Linked DNA regions of Homo sapiens: region 2 is linked to region 1. Evidence: fine-mapped expression QTL. A gene starts in region 1. The other region holds a variant in brackets. All regions are shown on one strand. Distances are between the middles of the regions.

What was found. PIP is the estimated chance that this variant, and not a neighbour inherited with it, causes the effect. A credible set is the group of variants that fine-mapping cannot tell apart.
Region 2: its variant is the best candidate, but not a certain one, in a credible set for the expression of ARFGEF1-DT in hippocampus (GTEx, PIP 0.89).

Annotation. Positions count from the first base shown.
Region 1 is chr8:67,339,798-67,351,232 of GRCh38, reverse strand. It overlaps ARFGEF1-DT (ARFGEF1 divergent transcript), which reads right to left and starts at 7,399. Exons shown (of 5, transcript NR_136224.1): 1 at 6,931-7,399. ARFGEF1 (ARF guanine nucleotide exchange factor 1) reads left to right here and starts at 7,452. Exons shown (of 39, transcript NM_006421.5): 1 at 7,452-8,069. The coding sequence starts at 7,946. RefSeq lists enhancers at 1,652-2,152, 7,758-8,438 and silencers at 7,162-7,421, 7,602-7,831.
Region 2 is chr8:67,963,646-67,975,103 of GRCh38, reverse strand. All of the region lies in intron 1 of PREX2 (phosphatidylinositol-3,4,5-trisphosphate dependent Rac exchange factor 2), which reads right to left. Among named protein-coding and RNA genes, the nearest start is that of PREX2, 17 kb to the right of the region's middle. RefSeq lists an enhancer at 3,872-4,373. The variant G/A (reference allele first, on the strand shown) is at 6,805.

The DNA.
Region 1 (11,435 bases):
ACAAAGCACATCTTGCACCGCCCTTAATCCATTGAACCCTGAGTGGACACAGCACATGTTTCAGAGAGCACAGGGTTGGGGGTAAGGTCACAGATCAACAGGATCCCAAGGCAGAAGAATTATTCTTAGTACAGAACAAAATGAAAAGTCTCCCATGTCTACTTCTTTCTACACAGACACGGCAACCATCCGATTTCTCAATCTTTTCCCCACCTTTCCCCCCTTTCTATTCCACAAAACCGCCATTGTCATCATGGCCCGTTCTCAATGAGCTGTTGGGTACACCTCCCAGACAGGGTGGTGGCCTGGCAGAGGGGCTCCTCACTTCCCAGTAGGGGCGGCCGGGCAGAGGCACCCCTCACCTCCCGGACGGGGCGGCTGGCCGGGCGGGGGGCTGACCCCCCCACCTCCCTCAAAAGGCAGGCTTTTAATAAAAAAATTCCCATTAAAAAAATTTTGGAAAACCTGACCTCATTAGAAAGATTAATGTCCACTTATTCATTAACACTTAAAATTATTTTCAGTGTACTAACTGTTGAGGGTAGTTTCAAAAGAAAGAGACAATGTGGTCCTGCCTTAAAATAATTATGGCACAATACTGGTGAGAAGTCATCTCAAACGGATATTTAGAAATATGTGACGAAGAAAGAAATAGGATGAAACAATGGTTAAGAGCATCCATGGATTATGGCAAATGACAAACTTAGATTTGTATTTGGTTGTGCTACACTGTAACCTTGGGCAATTAACTTGTTGAACTTTTTTCCTTCTCAACTATAAAAAAGAAATAATAATATATGTATCACTGAGTTGTGGATTAAGGATTAAGTGACTTAATGCTTGCCAAGAGCTTCATACAAAGTAAATATCCAATAAGTAGTAGCTATCATTGGTGTGACTTTCCGGGAAAAATTACAACTGTGTAGAGAAAAGTAGAGTACAGTGCTATAGATTAAAAGTAAGTACCTTTCGTCATGCTAGAGAATTGTGAAACCAAACATAGTAGGAAAATTTAAGAGTTTATGCTTTCAATTTTGTTATTCTGTAAAAGATTAGCATTGGATGGTTTTAAATTCACGAAAAGCCATATGGCTCTAGATTTGTATTTATTTATTTATTTTTTTGCAACCACATTCTAACTTTTTGGAATGTTCTCTTTATCAAATACCACCTTATAGTCTCTTTTTCAATAAAAATTTGCTTTCTTTTCTTTCTAAATCAAATTCTTTAATACACAATGCTCTCCCTCTGTCTGCCCTGTCCAATGTCTTGATACCTTGCCTGCAGGACAACAAGTAGAACCACCCAGTTTAAAGATACACTATATCCTTTTTTATTTTTTTGGAGACTGAGTTTCACTCTTGTCACCCAGGCTGGAGTGCAGTGGTGCAAATTTCAGCTCGTTGAACCTTCGCCTCCCAGGTTCAAGCGATTCTCCTGCCTCAGCCTTCCAAGTGGCTGAGATTACAGGCATGTGCCATCACACCCTGCTAATTTTTTTTTTTTTCTTTTTTTTGGTAGAGACCAGGTGTCACCATGTTGGCCAGGTCGTTCTCAAACTCCTGAACTCAGGTGATCTGCTTGCCTCGGCCTCCCAAAGTGCTGCGATTATGGGAATGAGCCACTGCGCTTGGCTAAAGATACACTATATCCATTTACTGTCTTAATAAATGAGGTAAAAACAAGCAGACTAGTGAAAGTGGAATATCAAATTAGCTTACATGAAAAGCCAAGAAAGCAGACCATTTATTTTGGAGATGGCCTTTCTTCTATTAGTCATGCCATTATTGTGGTTTCAGCAAAACTGATTGTTTCTGTTTAATCAATGTTTCTCATCTTTTGCTAAGTTGGCTGCCTCATCTTTTTGTGTATGCCTAGTCTTCAAAAACTTAAAAGTAGAGAATTCAACACTACTGGGGACAGTTAGGCATAAAGTGTAGACACAGAAGGGAGAGAATAGTGTTACTGCAGGTAGAAGAAAGAACTTTTAGGAGAGGATGGAATTTCAAAGAGACTTTGAAGGTTGGGAAGCCTTTGGGGAGAACAAATAAAAGAAAGGTGGCAGTGAGCACTCTGGATCATTTGAAAGACGAACAAAGGCACACAGGTGTGAATGAACTTGGTGTTTATATGAGTACGTTGCATGGGGATAAAAGGTAGAGGGTGATTTGGAGAAGGGAATGAGCTGGAACACGAGTGCCTACATGTGTACAATTGAGGAAGAGGGACTGGGGCATTACCATAAAAGACAAACTAAACTGTTAGAGGCGGCATAGTTTAGTTATTTAGAATATGGGCTCTGGAGCTAGACTTGCCAAATTGTAATCCTGGCTTTGTAAAGGTGTCTCCTCCCCGCCCACTCCCACACCCCCACCCCTTTACCAGGAAAGACAAAAGTTAATCACTGGAGACAACTCTGGACCCTTAGGATTCAATAATACATAACAAATTTTATTACCTAGCTTTCATCTTCTGCTAGTTCTCTCAAATTTGCTTCCCAAATTTGCTACGCTAGAAACTCAAAGTCCTTTCCTTTGTAGGATTTTTCTAAAAATTTATTGTTATTTTATTACGATGCTATGGAAGAACAAGTTCTAACCACCACACTTTTGAGTTACTCATCACTGAGTACTCCCATAACTGTACCACGCACAGGTTAATACATCTTTGCTTTTATTAATCTGTCTTTTGTCCATCTAATTTGCAGAGCCCCAGCCAATGAACTAACAACACGGGTAGAGGGAAAATAATTTTTTTCCTCCTCTACCAATGTCAGGAGTCAGATTATGGAATGTTTAAATTCTGAGATTATGTGAGAAAGACTACCGGAGGCATCACATAGTTTTTTTTAGTCAAGTAAACATGATGTTATTTTTTATGTTAACTAATATTGGCTTTCAACATCAACCAAATATGCTCCACATTAATTAAAATTTTATTCAGATTTTAATCTTTGTGTTACACTCAATGTATATCTATATTTAAAAGGACTATGATAAAGCACACCAATAAAGATGCTAAAACCCAGATCAAAGTCTTTTATTGCTTGATATTATTTGACTCTTTGGAAACAAGTGGGAAAATTATCCAAGAAGTAAAGCCAAAGCAGCTAGTACGCAGCAAACTAACAGATGGAAGGGGAAATGATGAGGGGGAATTAGGTGATAGGAAGGTGAGAGTGCAAACTGAGAGGCAAAATGGACTCAGGAAAGCAATTATGTATAAGAAAAATATATAGCTGGGCTTAGTGGTGGGCGCCTGTAATCCCAGCTACTCAGGAGGCTGAGGCAAGAGAACTGCTTGAACTCGGGAGGCGGAGGTTGCAGTGAGCCGAGATCGTTCCACTGCACTCCAACCCGGGTAACAAAGTGAGACTCCGTCTCAAAAAATAATAATAACAAAAAACAAAAAATAAAACAAAACAAAAAAAGGAAAAATATATTTCAAAATTTAGAGGATAGATATTTTAGAAATTCAGAAATAGAATTTGGATGTTTTGAAAACTGCAAGGAGCCAAGTGCAAGTGAATACTGAGATTGCATTTATTTACATAGCTGTATATTAGCACCAAACAACATTAATAATAAAAAGTAAAAAATATATATATACAGGGGAATGTACTCATAATTTCTTTTCTTTTTTTTTTTAATTGAGATCGAGTCTCACTCTGTTGCTCCGGCTGGAGTGCAGCAGCATGATCTTGGCTCACTGCAACCTCCGCCTCCTGGGTTCAAGCGATTCTCCTATCTCAGCCTCCTGAGTATCTGGGATTACAGGCACCCGCCACCACGCCCACCTAATTTTGTATTTTTAGTAGAAACGGGGTTTCACCATGTTGGCCAGGCTGGTCCTGAACTCCTGACCTCAGGTGATCCACCCGCCTCAGCCTCCCAAAGTGCTGGGTTTACAGGAATGAGCCACAGTGCCTGGTCTGTACTCATAATTTCATGTAAAAATCTCCTTTGCCACTCCCTGTGTACCTGTCAATAAAAGATTGAAAATATCCAAGAGCATCAGCTTTATTCTAGAGTCTTACTCTATTTTTGCTACAGGTCTGAGTTAGTATCTTGAGTTTCAAGTGGATAGGAGTGCCCATCTCGTAAGACTACTCCTACCCCCCTCCACCCTCAAGCACCACCACCTTTTGGGTAAACCCAGCAAGGGAAGAGGATGAGTTGTCCTCCCAAAGGAAGATGCAAATCATTCCTTCTGGGAGGGTTAGGTCATATCTCAGAGGAGTTTATTCTTCTGAAACTGACAACTACACTCTTTACCCTCAAATCTTCCATCTAGCCTATCTCTACAAATGGCATTTCCAACTGTTCACTGGTTCCCAGCAGAAACCTGGTATTCATTTGTGACCTCTTTCTCTCTCTAACCTGCACTCCAGTTAATTAAGTCCGGTTTATTCTGCCACCAAAGTATATCCCAAATCTGTCTACTTTGCTCCATCTCCATGCTACCACTGTCATTTCTGGGCTAACCTTTATGCAAATTAGTGAAAGAAGCCTCTTCTTTTGGGCAGACAGTGGGGCTGGATTTCAGCCACACTTGCTCCCTTGTGCCACGATCTCCACAACCTTGCTTGGTGGCCCTGGACCTGACCAAGCCATCCTGCGCTGTTGTAATAAATTTCTTAAAATGTTTTGCCACATCCTCACTTCTCCCCCTCCAATCCATTCTCCATGTAACAGAGGGATTATTTTAAAATCACCAATTTGATCACTTTATCCCCCACTTTTAAAACCTTTCAATGAATTTCCATTGTTATTACGATGAAATTGCAACCCCCTAACATGGCCTACGAGAGTCTGAATGATCTGGTTCCTAGCTCCCTCTTCATCCTGACTGGCACCATTCTCCTTGATCCTTTCAGCCACACTGCCTTGTTTTGTTTCCTGAAACTTGCCAAGCTTCCCCCTACCCCAAGAGACTTTGCCTGGAAAGTTCTTCATGACTTAGTTTGGCTAATGTCTACTCTTCTTTCAGGTCTCAATTTAATTTACTTCTCCCTTCTCTCACAGCACTCTATTCTTTAATCATACTCAACAGATTTGTAATTGTATATTCACTACTGACTTAATATCTTTTCCCTACTCTATACTGTAAGGTCCAAAAGGGCAGGTATCATGCTTGTCTTAGCCTGGTGCCTTTCATTTATCCAAGTTTCTATAAGTTTATAGCAAAGGCCTTCTCTATGCCAGCAATATAATAGATGATGGGCACACAGAAGTGAATAGACAGAGATATGAGGTCCCTGCACTTATGAGAGAAACATGCAACCAATCAACAAGCAAGGCAAGCAGATGAGATGATTATGAATGCTGTGGCACTATCATATCATAGTTCACTGCAGCCTCGAACTCCTGAGCTCAAGCGATCCTTCCTCCTCAGTCTCCTGAGCAGCTGCAACTACAGGTGGATGCCACCGTGCCTGGCTAATTTTTCTTTATTTTTTGTAAAGACAGTGTCTTGCTACGTTGCCCAGTTTCATCTGCAAATCCCGGCCTCAAGCCATTCTCCTGCCTTGGCCTCCCAAAGTGCTGGGACTACAGGTGCCAGCTTGTCTTGTTCATCAATGAATCCCAAGTATGTTTTACGATAAAGCTGACAGCTAAACATAACCGAAGAGTCTGCTTCGTTCATGTAAAGTACAAAATAGTTATTCTAGATGGTTCTTCTCCAAGAGTTCCAATTCAGAAACTAAGACTCCTAACTTGTGGTTCTGCCATCTTCAGCTGTGGCCATAGAAGGGAAAAGAGAGACTGGGCATGGTGGCTTATGCCTGTAATCTCAGCACTGGGAGGCTGAGGCAGGAGGATCGCTTGAGGCCACGAGTTCAACATGGTGAGATGCCATCTCTACCAAAAGAAAAAAAAAAAAAAGGGAAACAGCATGAAAGATTGCTTGTGGGAATTTCTTGTTGGTTTTTTAACAATAGGTTAAGCCTGGATGGCTACACCTAACTTCAAGGGAGGCTGGACAATGCAATTCTATACTAAGAAAGAAGAGTAAATGGGTTTGGTGATCAGCTAGTACCCTCAACAGTACCTGGCACAACACTCCATTATGAAGAAACAAAGATGAATTAGAAATGGATCAACACCTGTGAAAGAAGGGAAGAAAAAAATAAAAGAAATGGAACTTGTTCTAAAAAAGTTTATTAACGTATACACAGAAATCAGTATTATATCTGATCTAAGAGTATAATGAATCCTTCATTTCCAGGAATCTAGAGATAGTCTCTAAAATAAAATTAATGAATTTATAGATTTGTTTCTCAGGACAATAAAGTTTAAAAAAATTAATCTATTTTTCCACTTTAATTTGTCACCTTCAAGTTTTCCATTTTATTTCCTCTGGGTTTTAGCCTTCCTAAATCTGGTCACTTCACTAAGTTCACAGAGTCACTTAAGTTTCTCCTTCCTTAGGTTTGGATGGTTACGTTAGGACAAGCCTATAGTTAAGGCAATCTAATAGAACAGAACAGTGACAGATGCATAGTAAACATTAGGGAACCTGTGTGCGTGGAGCCACAGAAGCTTAGAACTTGGAGACGTGACCCTAGATCACCATATATAATGTTTGCAAATATTTTTATGGTATTCTTTTTCTGCTCAGAAGGAAACTGTAGAAATTAAATACTGCAGAAATTTGAGTTCTACACTCAGACTAAAGCAAACACATGGTCACGTGTGTTAATCTGTTTGTACTTAAAGCTTTTCCATTCTAAACTGGTTTACATGTCCTGGACTAAATCTTAGTATTAAAGGCACAGAAACACAGAACTCTAAGGGACCTCATTCACAACCATTCACCTTAACTGAGTCAATTCAGAAGGGACCTGAAATCTAGAGTTGACCGATTTATCCGACAGAGAGAGAAAAAAGTGAAACATTTTTGAACCCTTATCAATAGGTTTTGGCTTACTTTTCCCAAAACAGAATCCTCCCTGAGGTAGTCGGAGAGCAGAGTCCTGGACAGCAGTTCCGTGCACTAGGGAAGGAAATTTTAGAGTCGAGTGATGCAGGCGGAGACCCTGCGGCTGAGAACGGGCGATGCGGGTGTTGCTGTGACCCCTGGAATGCAAAGGACTGCACCCCCATCAGAAAGTTAGAAAGCCAGTGCAGAGTAGCCAGGAGTCCTGTTCACTCGGCAGGAGCAGGGGTGCCGAGTGGGGGGATCTCTGGTCCCGCAGCTCGGCCGCCACCAAGAGCCCGAAGTGCTGGGCGCGGTGCCACCAGAGGCCCGCCACGCCCCACGCCGCCCTGCAGGCGAACGCTGGAGGCCCCGCCGGGCCGCCGTAGCGCTGCGGCTCGGGCCGCTCCTCCCGCGCCGCCCTCCGCCCCCAGCCTCCCGGCGCCGCGGCAGCTCTGGGCAGGGAGCGCCGCCGCCGCCGCCGCCGCCGCCGCTTCCTCGTCTGCAGCCGTTCGGCCGCTGCGTGACGCGTCGTTTCCTCCCAACATGGCGGCCGGGGCAGGTCGGCGGTGATGGGGGCCAGTTCGCGGCCGCGGCGGGTGCTAATCCCCACAGTAGCCAGGGTAGCCCTTCTCTCGCGGTGCCTCTGAGAGCCGCCGCCACCTCGTCCCTCAGTTCCCGGCAGACAGCCGCCCGGGCCGGGCTCCCTCACCGCCACCAGGGCCGGAGGGACGAGTGAGAGGGGCGGCCGGGACGCGACCCCCGGGCCGGGAGAAGCGGAGGCCCGACGGGCGCGGCCCTCGAGGTACGGCTTCTTGGGGGCGGCGAGGACCTCGACGCCCTTCGCCGACACCGCGGCTGGTCCCGCTCGCCCGCCCCTTCCTGATCCTGCCGCTGCCCTCCACGCCTCCAATCCCCCACCTCCACCCCCTCTCCTTTCTCTCTTCTCTTCCTTCCTCTCCTCCTCCTCCCCTCCAGCCGCTGGGAGCCGCGGGTCGGACGAGCCGCCGCCTCCTTCTCTGCGTCCATGTATGAGGGGAAGAAGACGAAGAACATGTTCCTGACCCGGGCTCTGGAGAAGATATTGGCCGACAAGGAAGTGAAGAAGGCGCATCACTCCCAGCTGCGCAAAGCTTGCGAGGTGGCGTTAGGTGAGCGGGGAGGAGGCCCGGGGGATGGGGTGCTTGTTGTGGGGCGGGGAGGGGGGCGCCTGTGGGGGGGTGGGGTCGCCCGGGGCTTGCCCGAGGCCCGCGCCTCTGACCTCGGGAAGCCCTCGCGGAGCCCTCTGTTCCCTGTCTGGAGTTGACAGGAACTCGGCTGGATGTGGGGCAGAGGCGGGGTAGAGGAGGAAGGGCAGTGAGCTGGGCTCGGGAAACGCGGCAGGGCTTAGGATCGCGGGGCACCTGGGTTCGAGGGATCGACTTGAGAGTGAGAGGATTTTGTTGGTGGTCCGTGAGGTGCGGACTGGATACCACCCTTTGTGATGAAGCAGAAGATGAGCTGTTGTTTATTAGCTTGGAAATTGAGGTGGGGCTGGTATGTCAAGATTGGGTGTGGGAAAGGTTCCGTATCATAATTAACAATAACTTTTTCGTTTGGCGAGGTACTTTGGGGAGATAGGCTGCTGAAGTTGTTTCCTTGTTGACAGTCTTGAGAAGGGGTTTGCAAGAGGTGCAGCCCGTTCTGACATCTCTCCGCCTCCGCCACAGGAAAAACATAGAGTAATATTGTATCTGACTGGGCTGACCTGGAAGAACAAGACCGGTGGTTAAGGGGTGAGGGTGGGGGTGGCGGCATGAAAGCAGGGAAGCAAAGAACCTTTAGATAAAATGGCTTTAGGTGACAAGGGAAGGGAGGGTTTGAAATGAGGAAAATGAAAAAGACAATGACACCCACCAGCCACATGTCTGGACAGTGGCAGCTGCTCTCAAGCTTGAATTGTGATTTATAGTTCAGATGGAAGAGATCTAGTGTAATGAAGCCCGCAGCAGGGAAAATCCAAACAATACCTCCTACCTATGAGGTTAGGCAGATGAGGAGTTGTTAAAGGGGGAACATTGTTAGATCTATTGCATCCATCAAAGTTGAAATCGTTTGAGAGACCAGAACATTTAACACAAAGATACATTCCTAATGTTTACACTTTATAGCACTGGAAATACACTAGGTCAAATTGGCAAGAAAAGGAAGCTTGTTAAATGGGCTTTACAAAAAAGCATTCTTGAAAGGGGAAAAATCCACAATAACTTAAAGTATGCTAGAGTTAAGGAGTCTAGACAACTTAAAATTAGCTTTTAATTATTAAATGGAAGACTACCATTTAATTTGCTGTAATATACTGTAGTTTTTTTTTCCTAGATCGTTAAAATTGGTAATATGAAAAACGTCGAAGAAATTTCATCTTAAAACATTTGAATGTGTAGTATTAGGGGCTTAAGATTATTTTTTCACCTTACTTATCGACCAGAAGTTTGCATTTTGTTATTTTTGTAGCTAACAAAAGACTGTTCCCGGTGTATGAGAAGACAGTTGTCTAGTGGCAAAAACTGTATTTATATCTAGATCCTGAAAGGAATAATATTAAATTGGAGTGAGACTGGGGAGAAAGTGATTTCAGGATTTTTAAAAGAATTGTTATATGTAGGTTTGTAAATTACTTGAAGGTTGAAGAACTTTAGAGAGATTCAAATTAAAGTTTTAAATTTTTGTTTGTTTTTTGAGACAGGGGCTTGCTCTGTCACCCAGACTGAAGCGCAGTGACACAATCAGTGCTCAGTGCCGCCTCAAACTCCCAGGATCAGGCATTCCTCCTGCCTCAGCCTCCCAAGTAATTGGGACTTCAGGCACACCACCACACCTGGCTAATTTTTTTTTTTTTTTTTTTTTTTTGGTGGAGATGGCGGTCTCTCTATATCGCCCAGGCTGGTCTCCAAATCTGGGCTGAAGAGAGCCTCCCACCTTGGCCTCCCAAAGTGCTGAGTTTATAGGCATGAGCTACCTCTCCTGGCCTTAATTTTTTATAATTCAGATTTTTCATGTTACAACATATTTTTAATACATTAAATTGTAAGTATCAAACTGAAGAAATGGAGTGTGTTGTGTGTATGTATATATTTTCCTTCTCCAAAGTAGTAACATAAGTAAGCATATTTTAATGGAGAGCCTACTGGAATGAGAGTCTGAGATCCTAGGTTTAAATCCCAGTTCTGTTACGTTGTAGTATTAGGCAAGTCCCTGGGCCTTAAGTTCTCTGTAAAATTAGGGTATTGAACTTAATGATTGTATGGTCACATCTCCTCTAATGTGCCATAAATGTGATTGCACTGTCCTGTTAACTCGTGCATTGGGTATTCCCTACCACTCATGAGCATCATCTTTAGAGGGCCTATAGCGCTCTAAATGGTCCTTGCCATTTCTGGAGGTCGGGATTACTTGATATGTGTGCCAACTGTACCAGGGTTGTCTATTCCAGATTTTGACAGTTTTTACTTTTTTGTCCCTTCTGTATACTCAATAGAAGCTTGTTACGAGGAATGTGACTATCCAGGGAAGGGCTAGGCACCACAGTACTTTATTTACTTGAGATGTATGAGGCATTTTTTCCCACATTTCGTAAAGTTACATTTAGCCTCCAACAAAGCAAAATCTCAGTAATCTCATGGTAGCTAATCCCTGGTGAACTTTGTTTCTTCCCTTGCAGTCTATCTACATCACCACCCAAACATAAATTGATAAGCATAACTCATTTTGTCTTTGCAGAAAGTATATTTTGCAGGAAGATGGTATTCCCACAAATGTATTGTCCTTGAAGACCGTTAGAGACTTATCTTCTCCACTTCACTATTGAGACCTGGGCCAGGCCCGCTCTGGTCTGTTGGTAATCTATGTGGCCATTAAGCAGGATGGGAAAGCAAACTGAAAAGGCCTGATTTAGTCCTCTCGGTTCTATAGATTGTGAGTGGGTAGGTGTTGGATGGTGAAGATACAGAGATCATTTTGTGGGTGGTGTTATAACCCTTCTAAATACCCACCTGTCTGTCTTCATTCTTTCCCCAAATATTTATTGAGCATACAGCTGAAGGGAGATGGACAGTTAACAGGAAAATACATAGTATGTCAGACATTTAATCCTTTTTTGTTTGAAAATCATTGTATTGGCATGTGAGTAGATTTCTGAGTATTGCCATTCAAAATTAATTCAGCTACCTTTTAACATATGGCCAATTATAGATGGATTTTCTGTAAACTATACTCATGAAATTACAGCTTATTGTGTATTCTTAAAACTTTTTTTTTTGTCAAAAAGTATAACTTATGAAACAGCATGTAGATTAGGGGAAATTTTACTTCATTAAAACAATCCATTCTCAAAGACTTCTCAAGGAACTTTTATTTTCACAGAAAGAAAAATAAACCTTTAAAGGGATGCAGAGTTAATGTAAAACGTTTTTCAAATTTTCTTATGTCAGACTTCATTTTGAAGTAAAGAATGGTTAAAAAAGAAAGAATCCCCCCCC
Region 2 (11,458 bases), 620 kb before region 1:
GAAAACTAGTTTCTTAGCAGTGCAGGAAGGCTTGAGAAGAAGAATAATAAAGGCAGAAGCCAGAGCTCTCCAGAGAGAGGTGCACAAGCCCACACTGAGAAGTGGTATGAGGAACACACAGCAAGGATGGATTCCGGAGCTAATTCTGAGTCACCACAGTCAGGATGCAGCAGAGACTGGATGTGCACACAAAAACTGTCCATTTTCCTACATGGTCTTACAACTAACTTAATATCCAATTGTTTATATCCTTACATGAAGAAGGTAATAAAACTGCAAGAGACCAAAGCAATAAATGAATTTGAAACAAAATTATTTCTAAAATGATATCACTGCATCATCTCTAGGTTAGGAGGATCATCATAACTATTCATTCCAGTAAAAGTTAAGTAACTTTTTCTTAATATTAGCTTTGTACAATGAGTTCCAAATAAATTCTCAGAATTTGCATGATAAATAGTAGGAAAATGTTCTCACCCTCATACTTGGCCAACCCAATTATTTTAATCTACCAAAAACAATAAAAATGTCAACTCCCTTTCACGCATCCTTTGTTATCCCTTACATGGAAAAGTTAGCTCCAAAATGTAATGAACTAGCATATTTCTAGGTAGGATTTTAGCTAATTGATGTCATGTTATAATATATAATACCTATTAAAATATATTTTCAGAACATGAAGAATGTTCATCAATTTTCACTTTTAAAATCAAGTTTATGAGAATGCTTTTTAAAAACTCCATAGATTTTTCTTTTACTTTTTTTCTCTCTTTTCTTTTTTCATGGCAATCATGTTGTTTCTTCTCAACCAAGATACTGGCAAATTGTATCTTGTTAGTCTAAGTCCAAAGTAGTACACCAAGGCACCACTGAAAGAAAAGCTTTCAAACACGAGGTTCCTATAATTCACATTATCTTAAAAAAGCTGTTTATCAGAACACATCAAAGCAATTTTTAGTAATAATTCACTCTTTCTCCAATTTTCAATCTAAGTGAAGAAAGGTATATAGCACATTTTTATAATTCATAGAATATTTTCTTATTTATAGCATATACTAATCTACTTCAGCCAATAAGATACTTAACACCTAGTATGTAATAGACATATGCTAGGTTCTATAGAATATATGAAGGAAAAAAATGTGCATTAAGTTTTGCAATAAGTGAAAGGACCTTGAAAGTTAGAACAGTTGAACTAGCACTGTTCTTGATGTTAACTCTTAGATTCCACTTTCACATTTTACATTTAACTCTTGGTATCCATGTGTTCTGGGGCTACTACTAATACAACTGCTCCCAGCTGTAAAATGTCTGACTTGCTTTACTATCAGGCCCAAATATGATAATGTTTTATAAACTGTGATATACCACACAAAAAAATTATCACAAAACCCACATACATAGTAATGCAAGACCAATAACACTGAAGTGCTAAGATATGCGTTACCAACAATAAAACCTATAGTTAGTAGTGACAAGAACCTATATAGGAAGTGACAAGAAGATAAAAGTGGTATGAAACAGACTAGGAAGAGATGTCATTACAAAAAGGTGATGTTTGAATTGGATCCTGAGTATGGATATTCAAGAAGAAAGAAGAAAAGATATTCAAGTATGGATATTCAAGAAGAAAGAAGAGCATACATAAGTAGAGGCAGAAAGGCAGATCAGCAAGATGTTTGATGGATCACTTGAGAACCCTATCGGAGAGATTCTTCAGGAGTAGCTACAGCAAGTTAATTTGACAGATATGCCAAAGGCCCTTTTTTGTAAAAAGGCTCTAGAATGACAAGTTGATAAATTAGGATGTTTGAGCATCAAGGAGGCAAAGTTTATGATAAAATGAAATAAAAAGATGAAAACATTCTTTTAGGAAGATTAATCTGAGAATGTTTGTTGGACGGATATCAGTCTGCCCATACTTTTATTGCCGTATCACCCCTAAAGTAAAGGAGACTACTTCAGAGAAGAAGCAGGGGAGGCCTGGAGAAAGGGGTATATCTAGTGACACTTAGAAACAGAAATCAACACGGCATTGAGAGTGGCTGAACAAGGGATGAAAGATATGGAGACAAAGATGACACTGAGCCTTCCAGTCCAGGGAGACCAGAGAAGACCAATTACAGAAAAATAGGGGAGGGACAAAGAGGAGTTACATGTCCTCTAAGGGAAAATGATGAATTTAGTTTTGCACATGTTGAGTTTGAGGCAAAAGTGAGACATACAATGGAATGTCCTTATATAGAAGACATGATTTTGGGATTCAAAATCTTCACTGGAGCAATATAATTTAATCTGGTTTATGTAAAGGTAATTGCAGAGGCCATGGTCAGTTGATAAGCTTACTGGAAGGGATTAAAGTAGGTAGAAAGGGATGCAAAGGTAAGAAATGAAAGTTAGAAAAAAAGTGGGTAACTGTAGAGTTTCATCAGGGAACCTAAGGGAGGCCCTACAGGGAGGGAATTTCAAACAAGTAACACTGATGAACAATGCCGGGGAAGTGAAGGGAGCTCAAAACTGGTGACAGAACTAAGAGGTATGGTTAAAAGATAGTCACGGGGAACCTTCAGGAGCCTAGCTTCTTAAAAAAAGGGTCTGAAAGGCAGGTTGGGAAGCAGTTGAAAGAGGAAGAGAATGCAGTAAATTCAGCAGTAAATACAACGATGTAGTCAGGGAACCTGAAAGCTTTGGGACAGAATTTACACAGGAGCTGCAAGAGGCAATGAGATTCAGAAGAGGTTTCACATACTTTCAACACAGAATACATGACTATATCTGATGGCATAAACAGGAAGAAATCAAAGTTACACTTTTGTTCCTTACTCATATGTAGAGGTAATAAGTTTTATGGAGATCACCAATGGGCTTTATTACAGAAATTACTGCAATCAGAAATCAAGGGCGATTACTCATTCAGCCAAAAGTAAAGACACCTGAGCCCCTCACGGCAGTGAACTTTAATTATATCTTTAGACATAAGGGAAAATATGAAAACAAAACAAAACCATTAAGGACATCACATCAAACAAGTGGCTTTACAGAAATCAGTTTCTTGCACTTCAAATCTCCCTTGGCATGCATATGCTTATGTTCACAAATTGGCACTTAGAAAATAATTCTCCATATCTCATCACAACAAAGAACTTTGGAAAATACATCAGTCCTCCATGGGAATTCTCCAAAGACTTTAAAATATTAATTTCTACAACATCCTTATTTCCCAAAGTAGCATACTTCCTTTCCCACGTCAGGAGTACTTCCCACTAATCACTGTTGTCTTATTGCCTTGCTCAGACACATGGAAAATGATTTGTTGACTGCTTTCTACCTAAGTTAAATCAAAACTTTAACTATATCTTTTCCACTAACAGTATTTCTCATTACTATTGCAAAGTATTAATGGATAACTATATCTCCAATAAATGCAGCCTCCTAGCTAATTTCATTTCTTTTTAGTTTCCTCTTCGATGTTGAGTTACTTCTTAGTTTTATAAGTGGATTTTGTCAGTGCATCTCTTCTCATCATTCATTCTATTATGATATTACCTATTTTTTAGGGGCAGTTTGGAAAGCATGTATCTCAATCCTTGATTAATATATATATTAATGTCATGTATTCATTTCCTTGTATTTCTGAACCCTACTCCCACATTAGAATCACCTGGGGAGCTTTTTAAAAATAGCAATTCTTGACTTCCACCCTCTCTCCCCGCACCCTGAGATTCTAATTAAGCTGGTCTGGACCGAGGTCCAAGCATCAGCAATATTCCTCACCGATTTAGTCTTTCTGACTTTTGTTGAGCTTAATGAATTGATCTCTCTCAGGTCTCACCTGTGCCCAACAGAGCCATTCCTGCACTCTGGCTAGAAGCCGGCCTCCCAGACGACGCTTTCTGAACCAAGGCCCATTGTTTTGACTTCCTTGCTCAAAAATCTCCCCTAGCTCCCACACTGTCTACTAATTAGTCCTAAACTACCTCTACTGTTATTCACCATCTGGCCCCAAGCTACCTTTATCACCCCCTATACCACTCTACACCCCTGCACCTACTCTTCAATGGGACCACTTTAATCACTGTTCCACAAAAGCAACACCATGAAATGGGACAACCTTTTCAACAGTTCCTGTGAAAAGTAAAATCTAGCCAAAAGCCTCAGGCATTTACTCTTTGTTACTAGAACGACAGATGAAAGGGAATCTGTTTGCATTGGGTAAATAAATATAAGAATAATAATTGCAAAACAGCTGCACATAGCACCTTTCTGCTGCTATGTTAGCAGGTGGATGAAGTGAGCCCTGCATCCCCAGTCTCTGTCCTGACCCTCAAGCCTCCTGACATGCACTTGGAATAGGCTCCTGTATGATAATCAGTTGTTTCACAATCACAGAAGAGGAAAATGATTTTCTCCTGATTTATTTCATATTTCTTACTCTGAAGTTGAAAGAGGATTACCTCTTGATCAAGAAAACATGAGTCTGTAGCTATTAGTGTGAGAACTCTAACTCCAAGTTATGTTTGGTATATTTTCCCAAACTAGCAGCCCAACAGAATCTCTGTAGGAGGTTGTTGGAGCTGAGAACTGCCAAGTAAGTGATTAGGCTTTATTTGAAAATTAGTTCCATCAGAGACATAGGACCATAAAAATAGATTAGGGGTATGGTTATTTTTGCTGGCATAATTAATACCATGTTGTTGAAAGGCTGATGGTCATTACACTATTTCTTCATATGAATAGGAATAGTTCTCATTTTAGGTTTGGTGGTTTGGGCCTTTTTATTTATTATATTTTTTAGTGTGGGGCGGTAGTTTGATGATTAAACTGTATCTGAACTTTACACTGCTTTACATGAAATTTAGAGGCTATGACTCCAAGGAATAGATTTCGATCTGTTTAGATTAACAGATCGAGATTAACTCACCTTCAACAACTGTTACACAAATATACACCATCAGGTCAATAAACAAAACAACTTCACACTTTGACTTCCCAAAATGGAGATAGCTGATTTCCCTCTTACTATTTCCCATACTTACGGAATCTCTAAGCAGATTATAACTACAGCATAAACAACCAAGAGGAAAAAATATGGAAGGTACTAGGAATTAGAGCAAATTGAGCTATAGAAATTTTAGAAATTATAGAAATTTTCAGACCGGAGTGAGACTCAGATGATGGGCATAAGATTCTCTAACTCTCTTCCTTTTGTTTGTAGCAACACATTTCACCTGTGCTCACCTGGGAATGTATGTGAGCTGAAGGAAGAGACTTCCCATTTTTACACAGCGGTAGCAAAATGAACCCACTCACCAAAATAAATGGCAACCTTCGAACAAGCTGTCAGGAAGAATTTCAAGTTTTTCCTGAGGGTTCCATCTCCAGAAGAGACCAGACTTGATGTATGAGGAAGGTCCCAGCAGCTGGTAAATATTCTTCTAAATTATACAATAATCATAAAACATTAATAAACCTTCCTAGGTGGAAAATGGACTTGAGGGAGTAACTACAAACCAACTGTCTCAAATGTTACTCTAATCATCTCAGGAAGTAAGTTTAAAAGCAATCAAAATCTACCTCTCCTTGGGTTATAATTTTGGTCCTAATCCTTATTATTATGGGATGGTCCATCCCTCAGAGTCATCACAAGCCTAAAGGCCACACTCAAAGCTACACAGTCAGTGCCAGAGGCTCCTGCATGAGAAAAGATACAGGGGGTGATGAGACCAGAATACCTGAGAGTGGGCTCAGCAACAGCAACGACATTTCTCTAAAAGGTAGCAGAGATCTCTGAAGCTGCTGCTTTGGCTGTGGCATTCATAGACCACAGAGAGAGAACTGAGCTGGGTTAACCCTTGTCCCCGGTTCCTTTATGACCCCCTGCCACATTCAGACATTGTCTTAGACCAAACTCTAAACGCGGCCTCACTCCCCAGTGATAACCCCAACCAAACACTGTGCTCTTGATAAATGAGCACTGTCAGCACTCAGGGCCTCCAGGTCAGGCTCTGGCATGGTGACCCCAGCCACACGACAACCTGATGACTGGCATGAGCATTAAGACGCTGAGCAGAGTGCGGCAGAAAATCTCAAAGCCTCCAAGTAAGAGCTACTGATGGATTGAAAATTCTGTTACAGAGTTCAAGGAGTTTTACATATCTGATTTCCTTCCTAGGCACTGTATCTTGCATTATTTCCTTAGGCAAGTCTTGCCTTTAAAGTTCACCCGTATCCTTTGCATTCTTGTGGGTTAGTTTGGTACAACGGCTATTAGGTTAAGGCTGATTGTCTCCATTTTGTCAGATTCAAACCACAGTCAAAACCAGTTCCCCTGAAAAGCATAGATAAGAAACCCAGGATTTTCCTTACTTTGAAACAATCAGGCAGACAGGTCACAAATAGCACAAAAGAGAAGTGGATGCGAAAGATTTCAACTTTCTGTGGTAATTGTGTTTGCACTTCCTTTTAACTTTTATGATGTATGAGCCACAGAAAGGTCTCCTTAAAGAGAAACAGGAAGAAGAAAGCACATAACCTTATCAAAAAAATACAGACAGCTAAATTCCTTCCCTTTGGTTATACTTTTTAAAAGCCCAATATAATTATTCACCCATTCCTATTCTGAAGTTGGTAATGATGATGGTAATAAAGCTATTTCCTTTTCTTTGTGCTGCGAATTCAGTGAACCAAAGAATGAAGCTCCGCAAAAGGCTGCTTAAGAAATATCATTTCTAGAACTAACCCTGAAAAAAATGTCAGCACCAGAATCCGAGCTCCCAGATTCTATTAACAATTTAGTCAAGAGCC[G/A]ACGTTCCAGGATGCTAAGGAGAAAGGGAATATTTTCCACAGTCCTCAAGTGACCTTTCCCCTCCCCAGTCGCTGGCAGATGCTTCCAATAGCACTTTACAGGCCACATAGGGGCCTCTTCCAGCTGTCCACAAGCCTCAAGGGAGTCATTTCTATAGGGCAATCAGAGAGACAATACCACAGGAAGAAAGCCGGGGAGGGTTTGCAAGGTACTCTTTTTTTTTTTTTTATACTTTAAGTTCTAGGGTACATGTGCACAACATGCAGGTTTGTTACATATGCATACCTGTGCCGTGTTGGTGTGCTGCATCCATTAACTCGTCATTTACATTAGGTATATCTCCTAATGCTATCCCTCCCCCAACCCCACGACAGGCTCAGGTGTGTGATGTTCCCCACCCTGTGTCCAAGTGTTCTCATTGTTCAATTCCCACCTATGAGTGAGAACATGTGGTGTTTGGTTTTCTGTCCTTGCAACAGTTTGCTCAGAATGCAAGGTACTCTTGATCCTTCCCATCCCCTTTCAGGGAAAGGCCTTAAATAAGAAAAATGTATGAAAGCACCTCATACCTTAGCTTTTAACTCACGTCTGGGATTATCTAAGGCAATGGTCATAAAATGGCTTTTAGAGCCTGCTGCACATTCAAGATCTCCAATTCCCACCCCTGCCCCACTTGTTCAATGCTTCCATCCCCTCGCTGCTAAAGGATACTTCATTTCCAGCAGAAGCTTTTCAGCCTATGGTGCCCCAACTGCACAGCGTGCTGGGTTCCCATCCATGATGAATTTGAATGTTGGCTGCAGTTCCACTAGACATGGAGCTGCTGGGCATGAAACCTTATTGACAAAACACTCCACAAAATAAGCTCCTCAATGGTATAAACACAGAACAGAGTGAGGCAGTGGATTTTAAAGATTGCACCTTTAAAAAATATATGCCTATTATATTAAAGTCAATAGACTGAAAAATGACAACTAAAGAATGACACTAGTTAAAGCCTTAAGTCTTAGTGTCACCATGCTTTTTCTAATCTGTTCTATTAACTTTATTTATTAGCAATGTACATCTGGGTTTAATCTCACCTCTGAATTATCACTACACTGAAGATTTAAACAAGAAATCAATTGGCACTTTCCTCCTGGATATTGCCTGTTAAGGTTAACAGTAAAAAATAAAAATTCTTTCAAATATTTTTAGAGATTTACAAAAAAGAAGAGTGACAGAAAAGAGTGAATGCCTGCTTTTTCATCTTACATAAAATGTCAAAACACATGCACACTTATTCCTCTTCTCTGCTTCACTTATTCTCCCAGGCACTTAGACTAGCTAATACATCATATATTTTACTCATTTATCTTGTAGCTCCTAGGTTAGAGTCAGAGCTCCATGAAAGCAGGAATTTGTAATGCTTGTCAGTGCTATATCCTCTGAACCTTGAATAGTGATTGGCAGACAGTAGGTGCTCAAGAAATATGCCTTGGACCATGAAGAATAAAAATATCTGGATTTTGAAAGCAATCATTGGAGAGAATCAATCACAATGCTTAGCATATTAGGGGTTATTTTTTAGGTTGCCTGATTCATTGCTGAAAATAAGTTTTTTCACTTAATAAAGTTGGTTTTGCACATTAATTTATAAATAGCTCTGGTTGCATTTTCTTTTTGTTGTTGTTGTTGTTTTTTGTTGTTTGTTTGTTTTTTAGAGACAGAGGTCTCACCATGTTGCCCAGGCTAGATTTGAACTCCTGAGCTTAAAAGATGCTCCCACTTCAGCCTTCCAAGCTCTGCCCAGATTGATGCATTTTATGGTAATTCCTTTTTTCTCTTTTACAGATTTTTTAGTTCTGTATTATTTGGAAAAAAAAAAACCTGTAGATTTTACTTAACACATATTCAGTACTAAGGGAAATTACAGAATATCATAGAGGAGTTGGAACTTTGAATTGTGACATACTGGAAAAGAAATAATTTGTAGGAAGGATATATAGTACAACATAGTAAAACTATAGGCAATTTATTTTCTTTAAATGTTAGCAGACATTTTCTTTTTAAAAAATTTATTCAAATATCCTAGCTGACTACCTAGATCTCTCATTACGGTTTGCTTATATTTTCACAACATCATCAAAGGTGAATCTGACCCAAATCCTCATCTATAGAAATACATATATTTAAAATTGAAGATCCAGTCAAGTACTAAGCTCTCAAATTTTCTGACAATCCAACTTATCATGTTCCTCATAATGAAGTAAACCATAAGTAGAAATTTTTTAAAAATCTTAAATCACAAAGAATATTTGCTACCCTCAAAACATTTAATGATACAGAGAAGACCCAACTTACATGTGAGAATTATTAGCGCACTAAAAATTATACAGGAGAAACATCAACTTCTCCTATTTTAATTGAAAGCTATGCTCTTCCATGAATAACATGATTCCTTTTTGGACCCTAAAAATCATATGGTTGTGCTAATTGTCCTTGCTAGAAACTGAGGAAAATGTCTCTAGCTATGTAACATGACCCATTTACCAAACTTCATTCTATGACTACCAGAAGGCCGTTTACTCTCCCTCCTCTATCCTGTCAAACAAAGTAGGTCTGGCAAACAGAACACTCTCAAGAATAGTGATCATTTTTAACAATGGATTCATTTAATATATGTTTAAACTACATTAATGCTTTTCACCTAAGCAATCAATAGAACATCCACTGAATGCAGACATACACACATTTTGGACAGTGTGTGTGTATATATATACATATACACATATATATATATACACACACATATATATATACATATACACTCATAATAATTACATATGTTAATTATACAAACTAATTTTATATCTTTGCCTCAAATGTCTTGTGATTTGATCATATATAGGATAAACACGAGCTATATTTAAACACAAAGCCAAGGGTTCAAACCTGTTAGGAAGCACTGTAAATACACAGAGATCCAAAATGATCCCAGAGGACTTAAATTAAGCTGAAAATAGCATCAGTACCAACATATATTAACAGATATGCCAATGGGAGAACTAAGGTTTTCTATTTCTGAAAGTTTCATGTGTTTCCTTATTTCTGTGAGGGAAACTCCTGACTTCTGGGTAATCTTTGGCTCCTGAGTGCTTGCCTGGCTCTAACCCTGTCTTGGATTGACCATAAGCTCCTGTTGCTCTCTTGCGCTTGATGGTTTGCCTGAAATGAACTACTGTTCCTTCCTGATTTCTAGCTTCTGTGTACTTCCGGAGTCAACAAGTTCTGCGTCCCTACTCCAGCAACTGCCTTGGTTTTCCTAGTCCTGATTAATCACACCATTCCCACAATCCAGAAGAGTCCGGGCTGTGATTCATCAGCAGAACATCTTGGAAGAGCTATATAACTTTTGCAGTGGATCTTTTCAGAATCCCCACTCTCCCAAATAGGAACTGACCAAAATGTCCCCAGGTGTGAGTTTACAATGATCCGAGGCTTGAAGATAGTTCTAAGTCGTGAGTTAATGAATATGCAGTGCCTAACACATAAGAAACACATAACAAAAACAGAATTTCCATATTATCTTGGAATTTTTTTTCTGGAAACTTCCACAAAATTTTAAAATTACATAAAATCACCAAATACCCCAAAGCCTTTCTGTAGTGAAAGCCAATGGAAAAAAAAACAAAAACAACCTTGAGAGCTCTGGAGCTCTTACAAATATATCTGAAGAGAGAGATAAATGTTAGATGGATTGCTATGTGGGAAAGAATATATTATTTTAGAGGGAAATAATCCAAATTATATTTTAAATACAATAGGTTCTTACAGTAAAGGAATCCAATAATTAATATAAATGATTTTCTGAGGACAGGAGACTAAAGTATCAATGGATTCAAAATGTGGCAGAGATGACCCTTTGCCCCTCAATATTTATTCCCATGTCATTATTTCAGTGTAGAACTCCCTAAGTTTCAGCTGGGCACATGGCTGTCCAGCCAGTCAGCGTATTTCCCAGTCTCCCTTAGAGCTGGATTAGCCATGTTACAAAGATCTGGTCGTGGGGATGAGAGTGAAAGTGATGTGTGTCATTTCTGGGTCATATCCTTAAAGGGAGTGCTTGCCCTCCACTTTGTCTCCCACCCTCTGTCCCCCTAGGGCTGGAATGTGAAAAGTGTAGTGGTAAGTCAGCTTCAACCATAGGGAAAAGGACAACACCCTACTATACTGGTTCCCCCACCTTCTCTAACCCATTGGAAACACCTAGAGAATCTACATAAATACTGAGGCCTGGCTCTCACCCCCACATACTCAGATTTCATTGGTCCTAGGGGCTGGTAGAGCAATAAGATAAAAGAAGCAGGAGTCTCTGAATAACCTGATGTGGCTGAGCGGCTAACCCCACTGGAACACCACTGGGGTATATTTAATTTAAAAATTAAATAACCAGAGTTCTAAGAGAGAATGCAAAAAAGGCCATGTTGATTACATATGGCTTTCCTAGCCACAAACAATCCTTCTGCATTGTTCAAACTATTGTTATTTGGTCTCAGTTAAGGCAGCTGAACAAATATCCTTACGAATAAACACAAAATTCTGGCCTTCAGGAAAAAAAGAATATGTTAAGTACAGGTAAAAAAAAAATACTATTCTTTTTCTAAAGGAAAA